Regions from separate parts of the Homo sapiens genome. Here region 2 is linked to region 1. The links come from fine-mapping of genetic effects on gene expression. A gene starts in region 1. The other region holds a variant in brackets. All regions are shown on one strand. Distances are from middle to middle.

What was found.
Region 2: its variant is fine-mapped to the expression of ASIC4 in testis (GTEx, PIP 0.93).

What each region holds. Positions count from the first base shown.
Region 1 is chr2:219,509,582-219,517,896 of GRCh38, forward strand. It overlaps ASIC4 (acid sensing ion channel subunit family member 4), which reads left to right and starts at 4,901. Exons shown (of 10, transcript NM_018674.6): 1 at 4,901-5,725. The coding sequence starts at 5,144. ASIC4-AS1 (ASIC4 antisense RNA 1) reads right to left here and starts at 7,505. Exons shown (of 2, transcript XR_923921.2): 1 at 7,115-7,505. RefSeq lists enhancers at 379-428, 623-767, 2,898-3,539, a cis regulatory region at 686-703 and silencers at 2,126-2,420, 4,824-4,999.
Region 2 is chr2:219,531,568-219,539,882 of GRCh38, forward strand. It overlaps ASIC4 (acid sensing ion channel subunit family member 4), which reads left to right. Exons shown (of 10, transcript NM_018674.6): 2 at 191-335; 3 at 434-561; 4 at 748-910; 5 at 1,316-1,372; 6 at 3,604-3,757; 7 at 5,499-5,590; 8 at 5,675-5,754; 9 at 6,065-6,169; 10 at 6,366-7,205. The coding sequence ends at 6,479. CHPF (chondroitin polymerizing factor) reads right to left here. Exons shown (of 4, transcript NM_024536.6): 4 at 7,387-8,315. The coding sequence ends at 7,816. Among named protein-coding and RNA genes, the nearest start is that of CHPF, 8.1 kb to the right of the region's middle. RefSeq lists enhancers at 676-1,273, 6,097-6,651, 6,652-7,207. The variant T/C (reference allele first, on the strand shown) is at 4,839.

The sequences.
Region 1 (8,315 bases):
TGAACTGCCCTGGGCTCTGGTGTGGAGGGAGTGGGGGACCTCACACACCCCAAGTACATCCTGGGAGGCTCAGAGAGCAGGAGGGCAGGGGGTGGTGAGGGGTGTCTGAGTTCAAGGGGTGATCTCTGGGAAGCCATCTGCCCTCCTTCCAAGCCCACACCCCTCCCCATGAAGAAGCCCCCTCTGAAATTGATCTTTGCCACAGCCTGGGCACTACAAGGTCTCGGTGCCAGCGCTGATCGCTGCGGCACCCTTGTGCTCCACTGGCCACCTCAAGGGGGTGCTGTGTGTTCTCAGTCTAGCCTTCAGCTCAGCTGCTAGGGTTGGCCCCTGCCACTGCCCCCACCCCCAAATCCGCCCGTTCTCGATCCTCGGTAGTGCGTCCCTCTGCTGCCCCTGACATGCATGGGGTGTGGGGGGCGGGGGCTCTGTCAATGGCAGAAAAGTCCCCCTCTCCTAGGACAGAGGAGAGAAGGATCAGGAATTCCTTCTCTCCTCTCCCCGTCGATGACCACCTCTTGGCCCCTGATGAAACCCTGCCGTCTTCACAGCCCTCACTTTTCCCACTTATCTCCTTGGCCCTAGTGTCTTGCCCTCAACCTTCTCCTCCCTGCCCCACCCCCCAATTCCCACACCGCTCCCCACATGCCCCTCGGAGCTCTAATCCCTCCTGCTGCTGTGCCGCCTTATCTGCTCCCAGCAGCTTTCGCTGCTGCAAAGCCCTCTCCCCCTCCTTCCTCAGCTCTCTCCGCTCTCTGACCAGCACCCCCTCCCGGCCAGCCTGTCTCTGCCACTCAGGCCCCCGCTGTGGCTACTGGCTGACACCGCCTCTGTACCCCATGCCCTTTGCCCTCTGCAGCCTCAGCTCCGAGGTTGTCGGCTGCACACCCACTCCCACGATGGCTGCGTCCATCCCAGCCCTCCCCCGCAGGCCCCACAGACTTTGTTAGTTTCTGGCCAGCCAGGATTTTTCATCTTCCTGCCCTCCCTTTCCTGGTGTCTTCCCCACTTCCTCCTGATGCCCCCATCCCATCTTGGACCTGGTGTCCTTATAGTCCCAGGGACCCGTTGCCTTGGCTTGGGAGTACCCGAAAGGAGATGGGAAGTGTTGGTATGAAACTCGGGAGAAGGTGCTGGGCTGGGTTGGCCCTAGAAAGATGGGGTGGGGGTGCAAGGAGTACTGGCGGACAGTGGGGGCAGGGCCTGGCGGTGGGACGCTAACCCTCTTCAGTCGCCTCAGATCACGTTCGGGACTCCCCACCCCCCTTCTCTGGGACTCTCATTAACCGCTTCTCCTGCCTCGTCCGCGGCATAAATAACCCAGATAAATCAGCCGCCGTCCGCCCCCCGCCCCTCGGCCCCTGCACAGCCCGTTTGTCACCGCTGTGTGCTCACCAGCCAGGCCTGGACCAGCCCAGCCCCAGCCCCCCCATCCTTGTCCCTTACCGCCCACATCTGTCCCACACTGGCTCATCACTTGGTCCGCACCAGGGCCAGGTGTCTGGGCTGGGGAGGGTGTCCTCTGGGTGCAGGGGGAGGGAGGCTGGGCATCTTTTGGAGAATGCTGTCTAGGAGTTCAGGGGGTCACAGCATTTTTGAATGGGGCCAGCCAGGCAAGGAATCTGGGCATCAGCTTGGGGGTTCCTGTGCTTTGAGAAAGCACCCTTGGAACCCCCCAGGTTGGATCCTGGGAGGTCTCTGGGTCTGCCTTTGGGGCACTTTGCCCAAACAAAATCTCCATGCCTCCTCCCAGGAACCTTGAGCCAGAAACCCACTGCTCTCCCTGTCTCTCCCCCCGACTGCATGCACTGCCCCCCCCCCACATTCTGCCCTGTTACCAAACCTCGTCCCAGTCCATCTACCACTCATTCTCACTGTCAGGAAGCTCATCCCCTGGGGGGCGGAGGCAGGTGAATTGGACTGGGAATAAATCTGAGGAATGGGGACAACCAGAGAGCAAAGGAACCTGGGATGAGGCTTCACATTCTGACCCCGCAACACCCAGCTCCCCGGCACTCCCAGTCCAGGGTCCCTAACAGCCCTGCCCCCTTTGCTCACACCCAGCTCAGGGCCTGGCCAGCCACACTTGTCCCTGATGCCTCACTGCAAGGGGCAGCTGGTCCCCCGGGAGTGGGTGGGGGAAGCAGGGAGGGGTGGGGGAGCTTGGGCGCAGGGCCGGGGTGGGGGTGGGGAAGAAGCTGGGCCGGGCCCCAGGGACCAGCTGGGCAATGAGCCGGGGAAGCAGCCGGGAGGCTAAATGAGGGAGATTATCACCCAACTGCAGCCGGGCAGAGAGGGAGGCAGGCAGGGAAGCGGGGAGAGGGAGGAGAGAGGGGACGGGGCCAGAGGCAAAGGGGGTATAGAGAGACAGGGAGGGGGCCAGAGGGCCTGGTGAGAAGCGGAGGGAAAGGTCAAGAGATGAGCTGGAAGTATGGGGGCACTCCCTCAGAACATCACCAGATTCCTGGAGATCTGGGAGACTGGAGGCTGGGGGCTTGGGGACAATTGGAGACAGCTGGCTGTGGGGCAGTGGTGGGGGTGTGCATGCAGCTAATTGCTGCTCCACTTCCTGGCAGCCTGGAGCTCCCCTCACAGCACCCCCCGCATGCCCCTTATACCCAGTTACCACCCGATTTCTTTCCTTATAGAGGTTGAAGGCATCCTGCCTACCCTCAGGAGGAAAGAGGATGTGATTTGTCTCATGATGGAGGCCAGTATGTTGTCGGGGAAGTGTGACCCCAAGATCTCAATAGATGGTGGGTGAATTTAGAGATATGTATGCACTCCAGGGTAGCAACGAGTGCTGCGGAGAGTTTGGGGGGCAGTTTCCCGCTTTCTTGGCAAAGCCCCAGACTAAAGTAACCTTAAAAAGCAATTAAATCACCTTTTAAAAAAAACAGTAAAGAAAAATCAATATTAGGAGAAAGGAGAAGAGAGAGAAGGATGGGGAGGAACAGTGGGGGGAGTTCTGGAAAGGTTTGGAAGTCTACCAGGGAGGGGAGAGCATAGGAGGCGGCTGCCTGGGCATGGGACAGAGAGAGGGGGCTGTCTGTGGTCACTTGGCCACTTTCAGTGCTAACTCAGCGGCTTTGTCCAATGCCAATCCCACTTTCCCTTCTGGGACACTATGTCCCAGCCAGATGCATCACCCTGCCCCAGGGGTCTTATCTTCCCAGCTTGGGGAACCAGCTGACCCAGACTCATTGGAGGCTTGTGGGGAAGCCCAGCTGTGGGGTCCCTGGGGAAGCCACTTTGCCTAAAGGCTAGGGACAACCTAAGCAGGGCACCACGCATGGTCAGGGCTGGGTGTGTGGGCAGGCTCCATGCTGGGGTGACCCTGATGGGGCCTGACCTGGCCTTGCAGCCAGGGTGGGCAAAGTGGCTTCCAGCTGCTAAGGGAGCCATCCCTAGGCCCCTCCCCTGGGGCCAGGCAGAGGCTGCGGGGCCAGGCCTGACGCAGGGGGCGGGGTGGCCGTTGGGCAGCGGGTGGACCTCGGGCTCTAATCCCCAGCAGCTGCCGTTTCCCTCAGATCGATTCCTTTCTCACTTTTTTTCTCAGCTGCTGGTTCTGCGGCTTGGATCGATGGAGCCACCTCCCCCCGCCCGTCCACGCTTCCTCTCCCTGCTGCTCATTAGCGCCCCGATTAATCAGCCCCCCTTTCCTCCCGGGGACAAGGGCTTCCTCCCCCGTGAGGGCACATGCTGTCGGATGGGGCCCCAGAGCACAAGCACTGATTCTTGCCACCCCCACCCTGGGGGCATGGATGCATCCCCTCCTGGCCAGTCAACTGAGGCTCCCACCCCCACCTATGATGATGGCCCACATGCCTGTTCCCCTCCACGAGAACACAGCAGACCCCTTAGGGCTCTCCTGCCCCACTCTGCCAGGCACCCCTCAAACCCCTTTCTTTAGGAGAGCATTCGCTCCCATTGACGCCCAGCACATCTTCCTGCTCCCTTCCACGCCCCCACTGGGGCTCTTCCTCTCCCTCCATTGCATGCCCTGTCCCCCTACATATAGAGCACCCCGGAAGCACACCTCCCCTTTGCTCCCTGGCTTGCTTACCCAACAGCCCTCCCCCGAAGCCTGGTTGTGGCAAGGGATTTGGGGAACATTTGGGGAAGCAAAGTGGCCACAGATATGCAAGCTGGCCAGGGTGCTGTCTGTCCCAGACATATGAATGACTGAGATTGGGGTTGGGGGCAAAATGAGGGTGAGGGCAGCCAGCCTCCCAGAGGGGGCAGGGGCATGGTGGGTGTTGAAGTCTGGAGCAAAGCTCCAGGGAAGCTGAGAATCTTGAAGTCACAGTTGTCCCCTGGTCTGTCTAGCCTGCCCTCCTCTGCCCCCCTCCCTCCGTCATTCAAACAAGTGGCTCTCTCAAGGAGTTTCTGGAAGCTGCTGTGAGTCGGGTAGTGGGATCAGGTGGTGGCTGGGTGCTGGAGTCAGGAGTCTCAGAGGCCAGGAGGTGGGGGGATAGAGTTGGCTGACCCTTCATGGGGTGTGGGCCAGGAAAGTGGCAAAGAATGAGCTGAGGACCCTGGGCACGGCACCCTTCCCTGGGTGGCCAGGAAGTGGGGAGATCTGGGGACCCAGTGAGCGGCTAGGGTGCAGCAGGAGTTTGGGGGATAGCCCCAGTCTTGGGATCTCTGTCCTGGGCTGGGGACTGCCCCCTCCCCTGGCCTGGCTCCTGACGCCCGTGCTGCCGGTGAAACGCTGTTGACATGTCCTGAATTATTAAGCGTGGGGAGGGCTCCGGAGCACATGCTGAGCGGAGCGGCTGGGGCTGCGCGGCGTGGCGGAGCAGCGCTCGCTCCCTCGCTCACTCGCTCGCTCGCAGGGACACACGCAGGGGCTGACAGCTGTGCTGGTGCTGATAAGGGAAGCCACAAGGAGACGATCGAGGAGAGAGACAAGCGGCAGCAGAGGCAGCAGCGGCAGAGGCAGCACCAGGGCTGCGGAGCTGCTGGGAGTGGGAGTGACTCCCCCACCTCGGGCCCCCACCCTGTCCCTGTCCTCTTCCCGCTTGCCCTGAGTTTAGAAGAGCAGCCGCTGCCACCACTGCCACTCGGGAGGGCACCAGGGCTGCTGGCTAGGGAGGGACAGGGCAGGGAGGCTCTGGCCAGTCCCAGCAGCCGGGGACAGATGCCGATCGAGATTGTGTGCAAAATCAAATTTGCTGAGGAGGATGCGAAACCCAAGGAGAAGGAGGCAGGGGATGAGCAGAGCCTCCTCGGGGCTGTTGCCCCTGGAGCAGCCCCCCGAGACCTGGCCACCTTTGCCAGCACCAGCACCCTGCATGGACTGGGCCGGGCCTGTGGCCCAGGCCCCCACGGACTGCGCAGAACCCTGTGGGCACTGGCCCTACTCACCTCGCTGGCTGCCTTCCTGTACCAGGCGGCTGGCCTGGCCCGGGGCTACCTGACCCGGCCTCACCTGGTGGCAATGGACCCCGCTGCCCCAGCCCCAGTGGCGGGCTTCCCGGCTGTCACCCTCTGCAATATCAACCGCTTCCGGCATTCGGCACTCAGCGATGCCGACATCTTCCACCTGGCCAATCTGACAGGGCTGCCCCCCAAAGACCGGGATGGGCACCGTGCGGCTGGCCTGCGCTACCCAGAGCCTGACATGGTAGACATCCTCAACCGCACTGGCCACCAGCTCGCCGACATGCTTAAGAGCTGCAACTTCAGTGGGCATCACTGCTCCGCCAGCAACTTCTCTGTGGTGAGTTCTGCCAGCTGGGCTGCCTGGCCTTGGATGGCCGGAGGCTGGGGAGTGGGGAGGAGTGGTGGCAGTGGTGTACAGGGGCATCCTCAACAGGGCTTCCCTTCATTCCACCACCAGAGGCTGGCCTCGTGTTTCCCCAAGCCTGGCGTCTCCCTCTGGCTTCCCAGCCATGGAGCAGTGGCCGCTCATAGGGGCTTACCCTGGGGCGCCTGCTGCTCCTCTTCTTGGTTTTGCTGCTGCTGCAGTGCCCAGGTCTGGGAGTTGGGGTGGGGGTTCCTAGGCATGGGCCCAGGTGTCCTGGAGCTGGCTGGCTTGCAGGGAACGCACGCACCATCCCAAGGCCAGACCAACTGACTCTCACTTTTCTCTTGCTCCCTTTTTCTTCTGAGGCTACTGGATTCTTCCCACCAAACGAAGGAGATAGGGAGGGGAGGTTTGGGGGGCTCCATCTAGGGAAGGACCCCGGGTGGCCTCCTGGGGAGCTGGCCTGGTGGGCAGGCTGGAGAGACCCGGTCTTCAGGACACTGGGTGCCAGTGTCTCTTCTGGATCTCTGTGTGTCTCTCACATGCCTGCCTCACAGACTCCCTCACACATCCCTCTTTCATTCTGCCCTCCAGCCCTCCTGGGGTCCAGTCCCCCTCTGTCTCCTGTTCTAGCGGCTCCCATGCCCAGCTCTGGCTCTTACACTGGGAATCACTGGTTCACTCTTATGTGCATAACTCACCCTCACTGCTGCCCCAGCACGGGTGCATGCACACATGCACACGCACACACGCACACGCACTGCTGGGGGACACAGTTTCCTGCACACTCCCTCTCTCACTCACTGTCCCTGTCACTACACTCACATGCACACCTGCACACCCACACCCAGAGAGCTACTCATCTCCATGTCTAGCTCCCAGCTCTCGCTTAGCTGCCAAGGACAGGGTCCCACTGTGGATGCCATCCCTTCTCATGACACCCCCACCCCCATCTATCCCAACCGCTGCTCCCCATTTGGAGACTGCTGGCGCCATCTGTCACCTACGTGTGAGCACAAACACAAGCACCCTCTCCGGGAGAGGGGTGTGAGCTTGGGCTGCTCTGCCATGCACGCCTCCCACAGTCAGGTATGTGAGGGGGTGGGCGTGTCTTGTACACTGCCTGTCTGTCAGGGCTCCATTCACCCATAGTCACAGGGTATCTAGTATTCATGGCGCTCGAGATGCTTGTCCCTAGTCCACAGTTTGCTCCCAGCATTGTGTGTGCATGCGTGTATGTTTCATCCTCGTTGCCACTGCCCAGTGCATATGCAAATGTTTGGCGTCAACATGGTGCCCACTCCAGCCCAGCCTCCAGCAGCCAGCCCCAGTGATAGGGACCCCCGCCAGGTTCTCACTCACCCGCTGCCTCAGGATCACCAGGAAACATGCTCCAGCCAACGAGGTTCCTGGCCCCCACCATGCCTGCAGTGTCTGGGGCCTCCCGCCATTGGGCAGGGGAGTTAGGTAGAAATAGAGGGACAGGAGCAGGAGCATTGTGCAGGGAGAAGAGTCGGGGGCATTGGCCTGTTGTCCGGCTGTACACCCCCTTTCCTAGGGAAAAGCACTGCTCCCCAAAGCAAGGGTTGGTAGAGTCCCCGAGGAGGAGGTGGGATATGGAGGGTGAGTGTGGCCTTTGGGATCCATAGGGCTCTGCTGTCCTCAATCCTCACCACTCCGTATTGGGAGCTGGGCAGAGCTCAGTCTTAGCAGGTGCTGTTGGGACAGAAATCAATGGGATCTTTGTGTCCCCGAGCGGGAGTTGGGGGTGGGCAGGAAAGGGGAAGGGTGATGAGACCTCAGTGAGAGGAAAGGAGAGGAAGAGCTGGAGGGGGTGAGGAAGTAAGGGGAGGGAGGCAGAGGGTTCTGCTTGGTCTCCAGGCTAGGAGGCGGTGCCTGGAGGATACAGGAACGGGGATCCTCTGATCAAGGCTGGTGAGTCCCCGGAATCCTGGGGATGGCCTGGAGGAGTGTGGGTGGATTTCCCACAGGCCCTCTGGTACCCTGGGGCTGGAGAAAGGAGGATGGTAGAAGTCCGTGGGCTGAGGTTCTGGCCCTGGTGCAGGACAGTGGGGGTAGAGGGCATAGCTAGCATTGGGGGACAGGAATTCCCCTTTGGGATTTCCATTTCCCCTGTCTCCAGCCCAGCCTCCTACTCTTCTGCACATACTGCATCCCCCGTCTGCTGAGTGTAACTCTGTCTTGGGTCTGGCATTCAAGGGCTGAGTCTGCTGCAGATTCACCAGGGTCTGGAATTACAGATTGGGCTGGGGGCCCATGATCCATGGTAGTGGGGAAGATGGGGTGTATTACAGGGGAAAGACTGGAGAATGGGCATGGAGATGAAGATATGGGGTCTCCAAAAAGGACGTGAGGTCCATAATCAGCTCTGTGGTGAGGACCTGGAGTCAATGATGGGGATTTGGGGTCTATGGTGGGGAGATGGGTATGTGAGCTGGTTGGTGGGGAGCCTGCCGGGGTATGGGTGGTGAGATGGTCAGAGACAGGGACAGGCTTCACCAAGGGGCTGTTATGTGTTTTCTGTTGCTTTCCCTGTTTCCTC
Region 2 (8,315 bases), 22 kb after region 1:
ATCATCTAAGGGAGGCCATCAGTAGAAAAGTTGGCGCTGATTGGAGAGGCTGGGCTGTACATTGCTTGCTAGGATACGGGACTGGAGTGTCCAAGCAGATCTGGTGGCCCTCAGCAGGGAGCAGGGAACTTCGGAGTTGCCTTGGCCACTCCTTTCATCTCCCCTCCTGCTCTCTCACCCCACCTCCCAGGTCTATACTCGCTATGGGAAGTGTTACACCTTCAACGCGGACCCGCGGAGCTCGCTGCCCAGCCGGGCAGGGGGCATGGGCAGTGGCCTGGAGATCATGCTGGACATCCAGCAGGAGGAGTACCTGCCCATCTGGAGGGAGACAAGTACGCAGGCCGGAAAGGGACAAGGGCCACCTTGGGGACTGGGGCCTGGGCCCTCTGCCTGGGATGGGTTTCCAAAGGTCCCCATCTCTGCTGTGCAGATGAGACGTCGTTTGAGGCAGGTATTCGGGTGCAGATCCACAGCCAGGAGGAGCCGCCCTACATCCACCAGCTGGGGTTCGGGGTGTCCCCAGGCTTCCAGACCTTTGTGTCCTGCCAGGAACAGCGGGTGAGCATCTCCTGCTAGGCCCTGGATTGGGCACAGGGCTCGCCTTTGGGCTCAGAGGGGATGTGGAGCAAACCTGCCCTCTAGAAGCTCAGAGCCTGCCAGCTGTGTTGACTTTGCTGGGGCTGTGGGCACTGGAGGACTGGGTGGGATTCCTGAGCATGACCTCATCATGCCCCACCTCTGCAGCTGACCTACCTGCCCCAGCCCTGGGGCAACTGCCGCGCAGAGAGTGAGCTCAGGGAGCCTGAGCTTCAGGGCTACTCGGCCTACAGTGTGTCTGCCTGCCGGCTGCGCTGTGAAAAGGAGGCCGTGCTTCAGCGCTGCCACTGCCGGATGGTGCACATGCCAGGTGGGCACCCCACCCCCAGCCAGCCCTCCATGCCACCCTGCTAGGCTCCAGAGCCTCCCGGGGCAAGGCACTGCTCATGTGCACAGGCAGGTGCATGTATACAACATGTGTATGTGTCTGTACCCGTGTGAGTGTGAGTGTTTGGGATTTTTAAACATGGTTTCACATATGCATGTGGGAATGCCGGCATGCAGATGCCTGTGTGCATGTTAATATGTATTTGTGTACGTGCATGCTCATTTATATCCGTGGTTGCGTATTTGTGGGGGTTGTGTGTGTGGTGTTCAAGCACATTTATGCAAATGTGTGCATATGTGTGTGCATGCATGTATGTGCTTACATTTGGGCGTGTGGGGGACAGGGGAAGTGATCGTAGATTCCAGGAATAATCTTCTCTCCTTTCAGGCAATGAGACCATCTGCCCACCAAATATCTACATCGAGTGTGCAGACCACACACTGGGTCCGTGCTGCCTACCCTTTCCTACCTCTCCATCAGCCTCTTCATGTCTCTGTCCACTCTTCTCCTCACTGTCTTGGATCCTCCCCTCCCAATCTCTTCCTGGAGGGTTCTTCCTGGGGGTTGAGCCTTAGCCCATACTTCAGTGGGGTTGGGGAGAGGTCTGCGGACCTCTGCAGGTACAGACACTTGGGTAAGTGGAGGCAGCAGGGTGGGGGGTTGCAGAGAAGCCAGGACTGGGAGTGAAGGTCTGGGCTTCTCATCTTGGTTCAGCCAATGAGCTCACCCACTTTGAGAAAGTGAAATGACTTCTCTCTTGGTCTCAGGAAAAATGCATTGCTGGCTATCGGTGTGGGTAAGGCAAACCCCATCTGTCCACAGATCTTGCCTGATCTGCAGTTCATCCATCTATCCATCCATTCATCGATTCGCGCATTCTCCAGACCTTTACAGCCTGTGCTGGGTACTGGAGGTGAGAGTGGGGGCGACAGCCCTGCCCTTGGAGAGCTTACACCCCGGCAGGGCTGTGGACAGCCATTCCCACACAGCCCGTCAACTCCTGGAGAGGGGAGCCTCGGGTGTGCTGCAAGGCCCCAAGGAGGGGTGTGCAGCCCTAGCCTGGGAAGGTAGGGAGGATTCCTAGAGGAAGGGACACATTAGCTGAGGCTTGATGGGTGTATAAGAGTCAGGTGCAAAGGGGGACATACACTGAAGACCTGTGGCCAGAAAGAGCATGCTGTGTCCGGGGCACTGAAAGGTCTGTGTGGCTGCAGGGCAGAGAACAGGGGAGGGAGTAGAAAGAGTAGAGGAGGGAGGCCAGGCACGGTGGCTCACAAGTGTAGACCCAGCACTTTGGGAGGCCAGGGTCTGTGGATCACTTGAGCCCAGTAGTTCAAGACCAGCCTGGGCAACATGGTGAGACCCTGTCTCTGCAAAAAATAAAAAAGTGAACTGGGTGTGGTGGTGCACATCTATAGTCCCACCTATTCGGGAGGCTGAGGCAAGAGGATAGGCTTGAGCCTGGGAGGTTGAGGCTGCGGTGAGCTGGGATCACACCATTGCACTCTAGTCTGAGCTACAGAGTTACCCTGTCTCAAAAAAAAAAAAAAAAAAAAAAAAAAAGAGGAGGGAGGCTCTAGGAAGCCAACAAAGGCCTGTGGCAAGGCAGGAATGCCAGGTGAGTCCAATGAGATAGGAGGGGAGGAGACTCAAAGCCAGGGACTGGCGAAGCTGGCTGCAGTAATCCAGACACCTGGGGCCTTGGGGCTGGGTTTGAGACACTGGGCAGCCACACACATCCAGCCCTTCTCTGTCCCCCACACCACCTGCATCTGTCACAGGGGTGATTGGAGATGTTTAGTGAAGGAACAGATATGTGATCAGGAGTAAGGTGCCTGCAAGGCACAGCGGTAGACCACAGAGCTAGCAACATGGGGAGCCTTCATTCCCACCAGGCCTGCAGGAGGAGAGAGAGACCTGTGGCTGTCCGAGAGGGCTGACTGACAGCAGCATGGCTGGAGGAGCACAGCCTCTGCCACCTACGGCCTGGCAGTGAGAAAGCCAGGCGGGAGAAATACCCTGGCATCTCTTCCCTCTCACCTTCTGTTTCTGCTGGGGCCTCCTGTTGGCCAAACTGAACCCAAAGCCAGAGGACAAGGGAGTTTAGTTGATGCATTTGGGGGAGATCAGCCTCATAGGGTGCAGAGCAAGGTTGAAGAGTGGAGAGTGGATCTGAAGGGGCAGGCAGAGAAAGCCCAGCACATTGATCCTGGGAAGCTTGTCGGTCTATTTGTTCTTCTGTTCGCCCATCCGTCGATCTGGCCATCTGCCATCCATCCATCCATCCATCCATCCATCCATCCATCCATCCATCCATGCATGCATCCCAGCATCCTCTCCACACCTCCTTGTGTGTCTGAGGCCTCACATAGTTGATTAGCTCTGGTGGATGGGCTGTGTTCTCCCTCTGGGCCACGAGGACCCCCCCCCAGTCCCAGGGGGTTGGGAGGGTGCTGGGGGGTTCTGCTTATATCTGCTCTCTGGAGCAGTCTGAAGCTGGTTCAGGCGGGGACCTGCAGCCAGTCCCCTCTAGGAAGCACTGGGGCTGGCCAGTAAAGGCCCTCAGTGTGGGTGTGCCTGCCTCAGGACGGCCCCTGGGCCTCCTCTCTGCAGCTGGTGGGCCACTGGACCACCCTTCTCCAACTCCCACTGTAGCTGCTACCTCTGTGTTGCAGACTCCCTGGGTGGGGGCCCTGAGGGCCCGTGCTTCTGCCCCACCCCCTGCAACCTGACACGCTATGGGAAAGAGATCTCCATGGTCAGGATCCCCAACAGGGGCTCAGCCCGGTACCTGGCGAGGAAGTACAACCGCAACGAGACCTACATACGGTATGTGTGTGTGTGTGTGGGGGGTGGCTGTGTGACTCTGTGTGTACGTGTGTGTGGGGGGTGGCTGTGTGACTCTGTGTGTACGTGTGTGTGAGTGTATGTGTGTATGTGTTTGTGTGTATGTGGGTGTGGGTGTGTATGTGTGTGGGGTGTATGTGGGTGTGTACATGCATGTGTGTGTGTGTCTGTGTGGGGGGCATGTATGTGTGTCTTGTGGGTGTGTGAGTGTGTGATGTGTGTGTGCATGCACACTTATGAGTGTATGTATCTGTGAATGGGTATGTGTGTGAGAGAATGTGTCTATGTCTGTGTGGGTCTGTGTGCGTGTGTGTGTGTGGTGGAGGCTGCCCTCAACAGGCGCTGGGCATGGTGGAGGCAGGGAGTGGGCCGCATCTCTATGATGAGTCTTCTACCGGGAATGCCCTTCATAGCTCTATTCTTCTCCTTCTTTTTTTTTTTTTTTTTTGAGACAGAGTCTTGCTCTGTCGCCCAGGCTGGAGTGCAGTGGCACAATCTTGGCTCACTGCAACCTCGACCTCCCAGGTTCAAGCGATTCTTCTCCCTCAGCCTCCCAAATAGCTGGGATTATAGGCACCCACAGCCATACCCAGCTAATTTTTGTCTTTTTAGTAGAGATGGGGTTTCACCATGTTGGCCAGGCTGGTCTTAAACTCCTGACCTCAAGTGATCTGCCGTCCTTGGTCTCCCAAAGTGCTGGGATTACAGGTGTGAGCCACCTTGCCTGGCCACAGCCCTTCTCTTCTAAGTAGCCCCACTCATTGCTCAAGTCACGTTCAGTGTCTCCACCTCCAGGGAAGTGCTTCCAGGTCCAAACACCTTTCATCTGAGTTCCCAGCACCCGTACAGATCTCTGTCATTACACATATGCCACATTTCAGAGTGCTTTGCTTATGCATCTTTCTTCCCTGCACGGAGGGAGAGGGACAGGATGAGACAGGAGAGGAACACAGTACCCTGCAGGGGGAGGCAGGAGGGACCGCCCTGAGGCTTGGGTCTGGTCCCCTCCAGCCAGTCTACACTTGTGGAGCGTGGTCTGGGTGCCAGGCTCAGTGCTGGGTTC[T/C]GTGGGGACAGATGATTATGACACAAAACTCATGCCACAATTTGTCAATGAGCCCACGTTTGATCATGTAGGACTGATTCTCAGGCCCCAGTCGGGGAGTGAAGCTGGGGAGGCGTGAGCCGGCCTCTGAGGGCCCTGGGTTTGGGGTCTGAGAGAGGAGGCAATGGGGAGGCGTCCAGTGACAGGACGTGGGGCGGTGGGGTGGTGTGGCGGGGAGCCTGAGCCATAGGCAGCTGTGTGGAGGAAGCAGAAAAGACGGCGGCTGGGGAGGAAGGTGCCGGGGACAGGCCACCGGCTGCCCAGGACACCGAGAAGGGGCATTGTGGAGTGGACTGACGGGCAACAGGGGTCACTGAAGGGTCCGCAGAGGCGTAAGGAGGAGGCAAAGGCAACACCACTGGCTGCTTTAGAGGAGGGAGGAGTGTTTCCTTCAGGTCCAGGAGTTGTGTTTTGCTCTCCCAGGCCCTTTGCTACCCCTCAAAAGATGAAGCTAACACACATCCGGGACTGCCTCCCCTCACAGCCTTGGGGAGTCCGGGGGGTAGTCACTGACTTCCCCATGTAGTGATCTCTGATCAGGATCTGCTGGATCCAGGATGCCCCTGCCAGCCTTCTCAGGAAGAGAGGCCCACACGGATACCCTGCTTCCTGTCTCCACAGGGAGAACTTCCTGGTCCTAGATGTCTTCTTTGAGGCCCTGACCTCTGAAGCCATGGAGCAGCGAGCAGCCTATGGCCTGTCAGCCCTGCTGGGTGAGACTGGTGTCCCTGCCCCCAGCTTGTGTGGGGGTGGATCGGCCCGGCCGCTCCCTCTGACACTGCTCTCCTGCTTCCCAGGAGACCTCGGGGGACAGATGGGCCTGTTCATTGGGGCCAGCATCCTCACGTTGCTGGAGATCCTCGACTACATCTATGAGGCAAGGGCCCTGGAGAAGGCAGGGTGGGAGTGGGGGCCGTGGGCAAAGCAGAAGGGGGCAGTGCGGGGTGCCTGGTGGAGCTGGCCTGGCTGGAAAGTCAGGTTCAGGGTTCTCTGCCAGGGTCCCCTGACTGGCTGGCAGGCCTGAGGGCTCAGAGTCAGGAGAAGGGGATGGGTGAGGAGGAGGAGGGTGTCCTACTGGGAGTTTGCTGTGGCAGTAAGTCCTGTGGGCAGCTGGGCATGGTAAGGCTCACGCTTCTCCTCAACCAAATTTCCTGAGCCCACTGCTGTCCCCGACCCTGAACCCCAAGGTGTCCTGGGATCGACTGAAGCGGGTATGGAGGCGTCCCAAGACCCCCCTGCGGACCTCCACTGGGGGCATCTCCACTTTGGGGCTTCAGGAGCTGAAGGAACAGGTGAGGACAAGCTCTAAATGCCTGCAGCATGCAGCCACACCTCCCCAGGACTGAATACATCCATTGTTTCTGAACCAGCCTGTGGAGGGGGCCCTGGAGCCTCTGCCCGAGGTGACAAGGAAAGGCTGGCGGTGTGAGCCCTGGGGGCACCACTTGAGCTCTCCCGGTCCCACTCTCTCTTTTCTTTCTCCTGCAGAGTCCCTGCCCGAGCCGGGGCCGAGTGGAGGGTGGGGGGGTCAGCAGTCTGCTCCCCAATCACCACCACCCCCACGGTCCCCCAGGAGGTCTCTTTGAAGATTTTGCTTGCTAGGACGGTGCTGTGACTGAAAGGACCCAGGAGTCTGGGACCCCTCCTGGGATCCCCAGCACATTCTCCTGCTCCTGGGAGAGGCCTGGGGGCGGTGCTCACTGGGAGGGCCAGGACTCAGTTCCTGCTCTCATCCTCCCCTGCCCTGATGTCAGCTGCTTTGCACAAAGGTCCTTCTTGTCCACACCCCTTATCCCCAGGCTGGTGCCCCGGGAGGGCTGGAGACCAGGCCATGGGCCCTCACGGAGAGGAAGGGAAGGAAGGAGAGGGAGGGGGAGGATAGAGCCCATCCCAGCCGGGGAGGGGGAGCCCTCTGTACATTTGTAAATATTTAGGGAAAGCCGGGTGGGGGGAGGGGATACAGATGTAGAAGGTGGGTAGGGCTACAGGGGTGGGTGATTTAGGGACAGCCAGGGTCCCAGCCCCAATGTCAGCAGGATAGGGAGAGCCCCAGGACTCAGGAGTGCTGGGCTGGTCCTACTTCCTGCCCCTCTCCAGGCCCAGCTCCCCTCTTGGCAGGGGGAGAGGATGGCCCAGCAGGCCTGGCCCAGCTCCCAGTTCCCCCTGCACCAGCCCCACCCCTAGAGTCCCTTCTATAGGGAGGGGGCAGGAGACCTTCCAGACTTCGGCTGAGCTTGGAGGGTGGGAAGGGAGCCTTCTCAGTCCTCTCTCCCTCCAGTCTGATTTTATAAAGTGCTGACGAGATTGGGAATAAAGAGGCATAAAGAATTCTCTGTGTGTATGTGTGACCAAGCACGCACTGGGGGCCGGGGTGAGGCTGGGCACATGCATGACTTGGTCCCGGGTGAAAGGAAAGGCAGGCCCCAGCAGGGGCAGGGGAGCCTGTGGTGCTCAGCCAGTCCTCCCTCCCCCACGCCTGCCTACCTTTTCAAAACCTCTGAATCACAAGTCCACACTTGGCCAGTTTATTAAAGGCAGGGAGCTTCGGCAGGGTCCAAAAGGGAGAAGTTGGGAGATGCCCCCTCCTCAGCTCCCTCCTTCCCCAACAACTCTTCTACAGCCCAGCCCCCAGGGCCCAGAGGCAGGGCTGGCGTCAGGCAGACTGTACTGCATAAATACGTGGAGGCCACAGCCCGAATCAGCAGCGTCAGGGGGCAGGGAAACTGGGTTTGGGATGAGAAGTGGGTGGCTCTGGGGGCACGTCCCCCAGTGCTTGTCCAGAGCCCAGGGACCCACAGAGCCAGAGAGGGGACCAGTGGGCCAGCTTGGGGTCTGGCTACGGCCAGCCCTGCCCAGCGAGGCTGGCAGGTGGCTCTGGTTTTGGGGGAGAAGTGGGGTGGGGTGTGGCCATGCCACGGCCCACGGGGACAGGGTGGGGTCAGGTGCTGTTGCCCTGCTCCTGTTCAAAGAGTAGCATGGCCAGCTGGGTTCGGGAGCCGAGGCCCTCAAGCACGCTCTGGAGGCAGCGGTGGTACAGGTCCTCACTGAGCCTCGCGCTGCACGTCTGGGCCCGGTAGCGCTGCAGCAGCGCCGGCTCCACCGCCCGCAGCACATGCAGACTGGAGAAGTGGAGGAACAGCTCGTACACATCCAGGCTCTCCAGCAGCTCCTCTTCTTGTTCTGAGGCTGCCGCCAGGCGCCCACGGGCTGCCACATAGTCGGAGTTGTAGAAGCAGGCCTCGCTGGCTGCCTGGCGATCAAAGCGGCCAGTGTCACGGCCCAGCTCTGGGGGCCCAGGCCCTTGTGGTGGGGCCACAGCTGGGTGGAAGGCTTGGAAATGCATGGGAAAGAAGGCCTGCCAGCCGGAGATGGCATGCATGCGGCAGCGGTTCAGGAAGTCAGGCGTGAGCACCGTGTCTGGCCCGGCCAGCAGGAACA